2 separate regions of the Homo sapiens genome follow, and region 2 is linked to region 1. The links come from fine-mapping of genetic effects on gene expression. A gene starts in region 1. The other region holds a variant in brackets. All regions are shown on one strand. Distances are from middle to middle.

Evidence for each region. PIP is the estimated chance that this variant, and not a neighbour inherited with it, causes the effect. A credible set is the group of variants that fine-mapping cannot tell apart.
Region 2: its variant is the best candidate, but not a certain one, in a credible set for the expression of GPRC5D-AS1 in monocytes after LPS (Quach 2016, PIP 0.59).

Annotation. Positions count from the first base shown.
Region 1 is chr12:12,924,943-12,930,330 of GRCh38, forward strand. It overlaps GPRC5D-AS1 (GPRC5D and HEBP1 antisense RNA 1), which reads left to right and starts at 2,784. Exons shown (of 3, transcript NR_149067.1): 1 at 2,784-2,861.
Region 2 is chr12:13,010,999-13,016,386 of GRCh38, forward strand. All of the region lies in intron 2 of GPRC5D-AS1 (GPRC5D and HEBP1 antisense RNA 1), which reads left to right. Among named protein-coding and RNA genes, the nearest start is that of HEBP1, 13 kb to the left of the region's middle. The variant A/AT (reference allele first, on the strand shown) is at 2,617.

The DNA of each region.
Region 1 (5,388 bases):
TCAGCCTCCCGAGTAGCTGGGATTACAGCTACTTGGCTGTACACCATGCCCGGCTAATTTTGTATTTTTAGTAGAGACGGGGTTTCACTATGTTGGCCAGGCTGATCTCCAACTCTTGATCTGCTCACTTCAGCCTCCCAAAGTGCTGGGATTACAGGCGTGAGCCACCGTGCCCGGCTAGAGCAGGCAGTTTAATGCTGGGCTCCCATAGTGGTAAGTCTTCAGGGTACTGAAATTTCGAATTTAGATTTATTTGTTGGTTTGTGTGTTTTTCTCTATTATATAGGCTTTAGAAGGACAGAAATTTGTTCTGTTTTTCTCAGTATTCCCTGAGCCTAGGACAGTGCCTGTACACATGGGTAAAATGAATAAACTTTTTGGGAGAAGGGTATTTTTTTTTCTTTTGTCACAGGCTAATTAGAATGATGTCCTTTCACTCAGAGAACACAGCCCTCAGGTTCTTCTCTTGTCTATTCTGGTGTCTTGAATGCCAATTTGTCTTCAAATAATTTTGATGAATTTCAGCTGATCAACCATCAGATTTTTGTGTGTGTTTCCATATAAGAACACTTAAATCCAGTGTGATAAAAGCAACTTACAAGCCCGAGGCTTGGAAGAAAGGAAAGGAATTTTTTACTTCTTGGGCTGAATACATTTCATCACATCCCAATTTATTTCCCTGAGGCTTTTCTTTGTCAAGCTTGGGAAAGTGCTGTTTCCTAGGAGAACCACACAAGAACAAACTTTAAATATGAGAAAAGAGAAAAGCACACCCCAAAGCAAAACAAAACAAAAAAAACCCCCAAAAACAATAAGAGAAGCATTTTAGATGGATTTTCTCCAAAGATCGATTGCATTGTGTTCCAAACGCATTTCTTTTCTTTCTTTTTTAAATTTTTTTTGAGATGAAGTTTCACTCTGTTACGCAGGCTGAGGTGCAGTGGCATGATCTTGGCTGACTGCAACCTCCACCTCCTGGGTTCAAGTGATTCTCCCGCCTCAGCTTTTCAAGTAGCTTCAGGTGCCCACCACCATGCCTGGCTAATTTTGTATTTTTAGTAGAGATGGGGTTTCACCACGTTGGCTAGGCTGGTCTCAAACTCCTGACCTCAAGTGATCCACCCGCCTCAGCCTCCCAAAGTGCTGGGATTACAGGCGTGAGTCACTGTGCCCAGTGTAAAGTGCATTTCTTTTCTAAACTGACTTGAACCAAAATGGATGAACAAGGACCCTTCAGATGATATACACCAAACTGGAAACAGATGAGAATGCCAGCAAATGGGCTCAGGAGGAATTTATCTTCTTGAATTTTCAGGCATAAGCTGATTTTGACAATGTTTTCTCTTACAAAAACAGGGTGAGCGTGTTCTGGATGGAGGCTGGGTGGGAACCCCAGGTCAGAGCAGATGTGGAACTGGGGCATGGGGAAGACTATACCCCAAAGAGGTGGGGGTGGGGAAGAAGATGAAAAGTGAAAGACGAATGTTCCCAGGGGCAGGAATTCATAAACTTTTTCCATTGATTCTGCCCTCTCAAGCCAATCACTTTCTGCCTTTTTGGACCAAATTGGGAAAGCCTGGACAGTCTGCTACAAACCAGACCAGAGCCTTTCCTTGTCAACAGAGCAGCGCTTCCTAAACTTATACTGCGTTAAAAATCACATGGGAATTTGTTAAAAATGCAGTGTCTGGAGGCCTCCTAGAGGTTCTGATTTAGTTGGTCTGAGTCAGGGTCCAAGAATTTGTATCCAGAGCAAGTATCCCGGCGATTCTTCTGCTTGGACAGGGTTGGGACAAGGCGTCGGCCAGTCATCCACATTGTCTTTTTGCAGATCCACTAATCTTCCATGCAGGCTCCAACAGCTCCTTCCCGGCCTGGGAACCCAAATCCGCAGGAAGAATCTCGGGGTGTTGTCTTGGCTTATTCATTCAGAGCTGTCGTGTGTGGTTCTGCAAACAGTACTCAGATGCGTTCCCTCTCCCCGTAGGGATCTTGCTGGAGATGCCCAGGGTTAACAGTGGAACTCCATATGGAGACAGAGGCATGGGGGGAGCTTCGCTGGAGATGGGACAGCCTGCTCCACCGCGAAGCCTACTGAGGCTCTCTTCTTACGTACCCCGCGCAATCTCATCTCCCTGAACAACTTCCACCTCCACCTTTCAGCTCATTCCCTAATGTCTGCTTCTGTTGGAACTCCACAATCTCATCTTTATCTGCCTAGGTGTGTTACAGTAGGTAGCTGTCAGGTATGAGCAGGGCAGGAGAGGGTCTGTTCCAATAGCAGGAACCTCAGGTGACCATCAGGTGATGGTCAGGCGGCTGTTAGTCTGTCGCTCTAAAATAATAATTGGTCGCAGCCGGTGCTAGGGAAAGACAGGCTCCCAGTAGATAGAAAACACCTGAAACGGGTGATAAGCAGCTTCCCGGTAAGATCTTAGCAGTTGGGCGAGTGTACTCAAGCATGAGCACTAACAGGCAGAATGCCAGAGTTTAACTGGTATATGACCTTCTAGGGACATTCGACTGATAAGGGAAGAACGCCTCACGTGAGCATGTGTACAACTCCTGCATGCGTACAAACACACTGCGCATGCTCCCCTCCCAGGCGCTGGCAGGCCACACACTGCGCATGCTCCCCTCCCAGGTGCCGGCAGGCCACACACTGCGCATGCTCCCCTCCCAGGTGCTGGCAGGCCACACACTGCGCATGCTCCCCTCCCAGGTGCTGGCAGGCCACACACTGCGCATGCTCCCCTCCCAGGTGCTGGCAGGCCACTGCGCAAGTGTGGACAGCCTACACCAAGGGAAGAGTCAGGGGAGAAGGAACACAAGACTCCGGAAGCATGCCAGCGTATAAAACCGTAAGTCAAAGGTCAGACTGTCCAGTGGGTGATCTCTCAAGTCGCCCGCTTGGCCTCTTCCAAGTGTACTTTACTTCCTTTCATTCCTGCTCTAAAACTTTTTAATAAACTTTCATTCCTGCTCTAATACTTGCCTCAGTCACTCCTGCCTTACCACAATATTTTTTAAAACAAAATCAATACCAAAAAGCCCATGATAAACAACATATCAAAATTTTATAAAAGCAGGCTGTTTGGTTTGTTTTACGACCTTGCGTTACTGCAAGAGAGGAGCCGTTTCCAATCAGGCTTTGGATCCTGGGCTTATGTGGCTGCTGTGTCCCTGCCATGGATCTGTGAGGGTTGACAATGGGGTACAAACAAATTGGGCAATATATATATACACATATATGTGTATATACATATATACACATATATGTGTATATATACATATATACACACATACATGTGTATATATATACATATATACATATATACACACATACATGTGTATATATATACATATATACATATATACACATACACATATATGTGTATATATATAATATATACATATATACACATACACATATATGTGTATATATATAATATATACATATATACACATACACATATGTGTATATATATAATATATACATATATACACATATACACATATATGTGTATATATATAATATATACATATATACACATATACACATATATGTGTATATATAATATATACATATATACATATATGTATATGTGTGTATATACACACATATATGTATATATGTATATATGTACATACACACACACACACACACATATATATAGTTTGTTTGTATTTTGAGAGGGAAGAAAGATGAAAGAAAGGGAGGGCTTAAAAAATTTTTTTTGAGACAGCATCTTGCTCTGTTGCCCAGGCTAAAGTGCAGTGGCACCATCATGGCCCACTGTTGCCTCAACCTCTCAAGCCCCATCAATTCTCCCACCTCAGCCTCCCGAGTAGTTGGAACTATGGGTGTGTGCCACCATTCTTGGGTACTTTCTAAAAAATTTATTAAAATATTTGAGACAGGGTCTTGCTTTGTTGCCAGGCTGGAGTGCAGCGGTGCAATCACAGCTCACTGCAGTCTTAACCTCCTGGGCTCAAGCAATCCTCCTGCCTCAGCTGCCTGAGTAGCTGGGTTCACAGGTACGTGCCACCACGGCCAGCTAATTTTTTTGATTTTTAGTAGAGACGGTGCCTTGCTATGTTGCCCAGGCTGATCTCGAACTCCTGGATTCAAGCAATCCTTCCGTCTTAACGTCCTAAAGTGCTGGGATTTCAGGCATGAGCCACCATGCCCAGCCTCTTGGATATTTTTATTAGATTTTTTTTTTTTTTTGTAGAGATGGGGGTCTTGCTGTGTTGCCCAGGCTGGTCTTGAACTCCTGGGCTCAAATCATCCTGCCTTGGCCTCCAAAAGTGTTGGGATTACAAGTGTGAACCACTGTACCTGGCCTTTTTATTTTTGTTTTAAAAGAGAGAAGAAAGGGAGATGGGGGGAAGGAGGCTTTATATATATATATATATATATATATATATATAATTTCTTATTTTTATTTTTTTTAGATGGAGTCTTGCTCTGTTGCCCAGGCTTGAATGCAATGGTGCGATCTTGGCTCACTGCAACCTCTGCCTCCCAGGTTTAAGCGATTCTCCTGCCTCAGCCTCCCTAGTATCTGGGATTACAGGTGTATGCCACCACACCTGACTAATTTTTTTGTATTTTTAGTAGAGATGGGGTTTCACCACATTGACCCAGCTGGTCTCAAACTTCTGACCTCAAGTGATCCACCTGCCTCCGCCTCCCAAAGTGCTGGGATTATAGGCGTGAGCCATCGTGCCCGGCTGAGGCTTAATTTTTTGATTGGAGACTTTTAAATGACGTTTTTCCACTTGGTTCAAAGCATGGGAAGATATTTTGATAAGCGCATATAGGGACACACACGTTTCCTTCTGTCTCGGGCTCCAAGAGGGCCTAGCACAGCAGTGCTCACTGATGATCAGGCCTCTCCTTCCAGTGCTCTTCACACACAGACCATGTCTAGATTCCTCCTTTCGGGATGGAAGCCCTGTGGGGGCAGAGCCAACCTCTCCCGTTGCTTCTCTCTTTGTCTATCTCTGCTCCAGCATAAGGAGGGCTTGCAGCTGGCTGAATGAGCCTTGGTTTTCCTTGCAGCCTCACCTTCAGACAGACTTTTCTGACCTGCATACCTGGTCCAATGCTGTCAGTTGACTAGTTTGGGTTTTTTGTACTGCTCAAAGGCACCCAGCTGAGATGGTTGGGGTGGGGTTGGAATCCAGTCTCACTGCTGGCCAAGCCCTGGATGCTGGCCTGAGGTCACATCCTTTGGGGTGGGGGCACATTTTCAAATTCATCCACTCAGAGGGGGCACATGTTTCTAACTCACACACAGTCTCCCTGTGTGTGGCTGTTCTGAGTACCATTCCCAACATCATCTGCTCAGGGAATTTCTACCCCCCATCAACCTCGTGTAA
Region 2 (5,388 bases), 86 kb after region 1:
TACCCAAGTTCCCAGGTAGTCTACGGGGTTCTAAACTGTAGCAGTGAACAAAACAGACGAAAACCCCTGCTTTACTGGAGTTTACATTTCGGCGTGGGAGACAGGCAGTAAATAAACACATTCATAAATATGTAATAGGTCAGGTGGTGTGTGTTGAAGGCCAACGTATGTCAGTGTGGGCCACTTTAGATAGGGTGGTGACATTTCAACAGAGACTCCCCAAAAAGTGAGGGCATCACTGAGAAGATAGCTAGGGGAGAAGTTTTCAAGTCAGTCGGAAAGGCACGTGCAAAGGCCCTGAGGTGGGAGAATACCTGGCATGTTGAAGAAAGCAAGGAGGCCAGTGTGGCTGGAGTTTACTGAGAAGGAAGAAGGTTACAGGCAAGGGCTCCAGAACCAGGCTGCCTCGGTTCAAATCCCTGCTTACAAGTCGGGTGACCTTGGGCGACTTATTTACTCTCTCTTTGCCTCAGGGCTGTCATCTGAAAAATGGAAATAATGATAATGTGTACCTCAGAGGCTTGTTATGAGGATTAATAATTGCAAAGCACTTAGAACAGGGCCTGGCACATAGTAAGTGCTCTGTAAGTGAATCTTAACCTAAAAAAGGAGAAGAATGATGAAAAATCCAAATTGAAGCAACTATTTCAATATCATAAAATTACTAATCTATATTCTTTTAAAATGTCAATGTCTTAAAAGACAAGAAAAGGCTAAAGAATTGATTCAAATTAAACGAGACTAGAGAGACACTACAAGTAAATGTCATCTGTGATTATGGGCTGGACCCTGTGCCAAGAAAAAATACTCTAAAGAACATTAGTAGAATTAAATTGATTAAGTTAGCATACAGACTGTAGATTAGATAAAAGTATTATATCAATATTAAAGTTCCTGACATTGATAACTATATTGTGGTTGTGTAAGAGAATATCCTTGTTCTTAAGAAATACACACAGGGGTATTAAGGGGATAAGCGGACCTACTATCAAATGGTGTAGAGATAAGCTGTGACACACACACACATACACACAGCCTACTTCTTTAACCTAATATATTAAGTATCCTTCTCCTAGTTTCCTATACCGTAGCTGCATTGATCTCCTTGGTATTCCTTAAGAATACAAGTATGTTCTAGATCAGGGTGTAGGTATTCACTGTTTCTTTGCTTAGAATTTCTTCTCCCAGAAATTGACTTGAATGGCTTCTTTTCATCATTCGGGTCTCAAATCCCCTTTTCAGAGAGAGCTTCCTCGACTCCCCAACCTAAAGTGTCTCCTCTCCCTAGAGTGCTTATCATTATCTGAAAATAATTAATTCATTTCTATGCTTCTTTTCCTTTTTGTCTTTTTCTTCCCACTAAACTGTACATGTCATAAGAGGAGAGATCTTCTGGATCACAACTCTATCTTCAGTACCTAGAATAGTGTCAGAAACATAAGCTCTCAATATATATTTGTTGAATGAATGGGATGGGATGGGGTGGGTTGGTGTGGGATAGGAGAAGACTCTAGGAGGAAGGTCGGCAGCATGAACCCAGTTATTAGAGAGACTGTGGGTGCATTAGTGTCTATCATTCCATCCTACTACCAGTACAACTTTTTAAGAAGGGAGATATGCTTAAAAGAGGTTGGGAGGAGAAAGAGAGAGAAAGCACAAAGAGGAAAAAAGTATAAGATATGCTTATTTGAAACTTAGAGGTTGATCATAATCAGCAATTTTAGAGAAAAAGAGGAATCAAAGGAGAGGAACTTTGTTGACATGTCCAAAACAATTGTAATGTCAGCCATTTCTTTCCTTTTTTTTGCCAGAGTTTTGCTCTTTTGCCCAGGCTGGAGTGAAGTAGCTTCCGCCCCCCAGGGTTCAAGTGATTCTCCTGCCTCAGCCTCCTGAGTAGCTGGGATTATAGGTGCTCACGACCACCCCTGGCTAATTTTTGTATTTTTAGTAGAGACAGGGTTTCATCATATTGTCCAGGCTGGTCTCAAACTCCTGACCTCAGGTGATCGACCTGCCTGAGCCTCCCAAAGTGCTGGGATTACAGACGTGAGCTACCACACTCAGCCTAATGTCAGCTATTTCTTTTTGATGACATAATCCACATTAAAATTGTATCTAGAACAGTAAGAGGAACCAGTCTCCAATGACATCTAAATGGGTGTATTGTCCTTTATTTTGGAAAATTCCCCTTCCATCTTATTTAGGACAATGTTGTAAGTTTCCCACTCTTGGGATCAGCACCTGGATGTTGTCTTTGGCTCTCTTCATCCTTACATTTTCTTTTTTCCCTCCTAAATCCTCAATTCTTTGTGATTCTTCTCTTATATTACTCTCACATGTGGACCTATGATGTGGGTCAGTGTTTCTCAGTGTGCTTCTTGCATCTGCTGTATCACTTGGAGAGCCTGTTAATCATGCAGATTCCTTGGCCCCAAATCAGAATCTCTGGGACGGGTAAGCAGGGAAACTGGTAACTTTTAAAATTTTTCATTTTTTTAAGTAAAATATAGATTTCAAAAATTCAAAATATACTAAAGGATATGAAATAAAGAATTTTTCTCCTAGACTCTGTTTCTCAGCTACCCTTTCCCCTTTCTTAGAAGTATGCATTGTTGC[A/AT]TTTTTTTTTTTTTTTTTTTTTGAGACAGGGTCACACTCCTCCACTCAGGCCTGGAGTGCAGTGGCACGATCTCGGCTCACTGCAACCTCCGCCTCCCGGGTTCAAGTGATTTTTGAGCCTTAGCCTCCCAAGTAGCTGGGATTACAGGTGCATGCCACCATACCCAGCTAATTTTTGTATTTTTAGTAGAGACGGGTTTCACCATGTTGGCCAGGCTGGTCTCAAACTCTTGATCTTAAGAAACCACCTGCCTCAGCCTCCCAAAGTGCTGGGATTACAGGTGGAGTCACCACGCCCAGCCTAAAAGTATGCATTGTTATATTACTTTCATATATATTTTTCCAGAGTTTTTTTGTGCATAGACATACAAATACATGCATATATTTTTTTTCTCTACTTTCTCATTACACAAATGATAATGTACTATACTTATGGTTTCTGTAAATTGTTCTTTTGTTGTCATGTGCCAATGTATTTTGGAAATCATGCCATAGTGATATATGAGTAATGATTCACGTTTTTCCCAGTGGTATGGATTTTCATGTATGGATGTGCCGTAAATACTTAACAAGGAGCCTATCAATGGAGGTTCACATTGTTTTCAATCCTTTGATAATAGGAACAATATTGCAGTGAATAACCTCCGAAATATATCATATCCCACATGTATAAATATACCTGAAGAAAATTTTCCTGAGCCAAAGGATATGTACATTTAAAATTTTGATAGATATTGCTAAATTATTTTCAGTATAGGTTGGCAAACTCACCAGTGAAAACATCTGGGCCTTCAGATTTCTTTCTTGGAAGGCTATTAATTATTGATTCAACTTATTTAATAGAGCTAAAGCTATTCAGATTATTTATCCTTGTGTGAATTTTGGTAGTTTGTGTCTCTCAAGGAATTGGTCCATTTCATCTAAATTGTCAAATTTATTGGCATAGAGTTGTTTATAGTATTCTTCTTTTCTCCTTTTAATATCTGTGTGATCAGTAGTGATAACCCTTCTTTTATTTCTGACATTGGTAATTTGTGTCTCCTCTTTTTTTCTTGGGTAGTTTGGGTAAAGGTTTATCAATTTTATTGTTCTTTCCAAAGAACCAGTCTTTGGTTTTGTTGATTCCCTCTATTGTTTTTCTGTGCTCAACTTCATTGATTTCTGTTGTAATTTTTATTTCTTCTGTTCCTCCATTGTCTTTCTTGCTCTAGTTTCTTAGGTGGAAGCTTATTGGTTTTACATCTTTCTGTTTTTCTAACACATGCACTAAATTTCCCTTTAATCACTATTTTTGCTGCACCTCACAAATTTTGATAAGTTGTATTTCCATTTTCATTTAGTTCAAGATATTATAAACTTCCCATAAAAGATAAGTTGTTGAGCCTGCATAACTTAAAAACTGACATATTTGCTGACTACCCGTGCTTAGAGAAAAATGCAGAGAGCAATGTGAGGCCGAAGTTGTGGAAACAACGGAGGTTGTGAACCAAGAAAATGGAACAGGTTTTAGGTTAGCAGGGAAAGGTGAGAGAGAATTCCAGGGAAGAGTTCAGATAGTAATGCCTATTGGGAGAATCTCTATTTGGAAAGCATTTTATTTTAAATATATAAAATGCACAACAAAATTACCAATTTAACATGCAATTATGGGTATTCGTAATAATATTTTCTTTCTTCTTTTGAGACGGAGTCTCACTCTGTCTCACCCAGGCTGGAGTGCAGTGGCGCGATCTCGGCTCACTGCAGCCTTCGCCTCCTGGGTTCAAGCGATTCTCCTGTCTCAGCCTCCTGAGTAGCTGGGACTACAGGCACGTGCCACCACACCTGGCTAATTTTTTGTATTTTTAGTAGAGACGGGGTTTCACCATGTTGGCCAGGCTAGCCTCGAACTCCTGACCTCGGGTGATCCACCCGCCTCAGCCTTCCAAAGTGCTGGGATAACAGGCATGAGCCACCAAACCCAGCTCATAATATTTTCTGATTAATGGCTATAAGAAAGTGCTTTAAAATAATCAAAATATACCTTTTAAAATAAACAAATGAAAAAACAAAAATATCTTTGAGTTTCTCTTGAGCCTTATTCTTTGAGCCATGTGTTAGTTAGAAGTGTGTTGTTTAATTTCCAAATATTAGGGGGATTTCCTAGCTATCTTTCTGTTACTGATTTCTATTTTAATCCCATTGTGGTCTGATAAATTCCTTTGTATGATTTCTATTCTTCTAAATTTGCTAAGGTGTATCTTATGGCCCAGAATGTGGTTTATCTTGATGAATGTCCTGTGTGGGCTTAAGAATAACGTGTATTCTGCTGTTGTCGAATGGAATAATCTATAATGTTAATTAGATGAAGTGATTGATAGTGCTGCTCAGGTCAACTATATCCTTACTGATTTTCTGCCTGCTTGATTTATCAATTACTAACAAAAAGTTGTTGAAGTTTCTAACTATAAATAGTGGATTTGTCTGTTTCTCCATTCAGCTTGGACTTGGGCACATTTGGGATTGTTATGTCTTCTTGGAGAATTGACCCCTTTGTCATTACAGAGTGCCTCTCAATCCCAGAAGATTTTCCTCATTCTGAAGTCTGTTTGTCTGAAATTAATATGGCTCCCCCAGTATTCTTTTGATTAGTGTTAGAACGGTTTATCCATCTCTATTTTTATCTCTCTTTCTTTCTTTTTCCATTCCTTTATTTTTAATCTATCTGTCTTTATAATAAGAATGGTTTTCTTGTAGATAATGTATAGTCTTGCTTTCCTTATTCATTCTGAC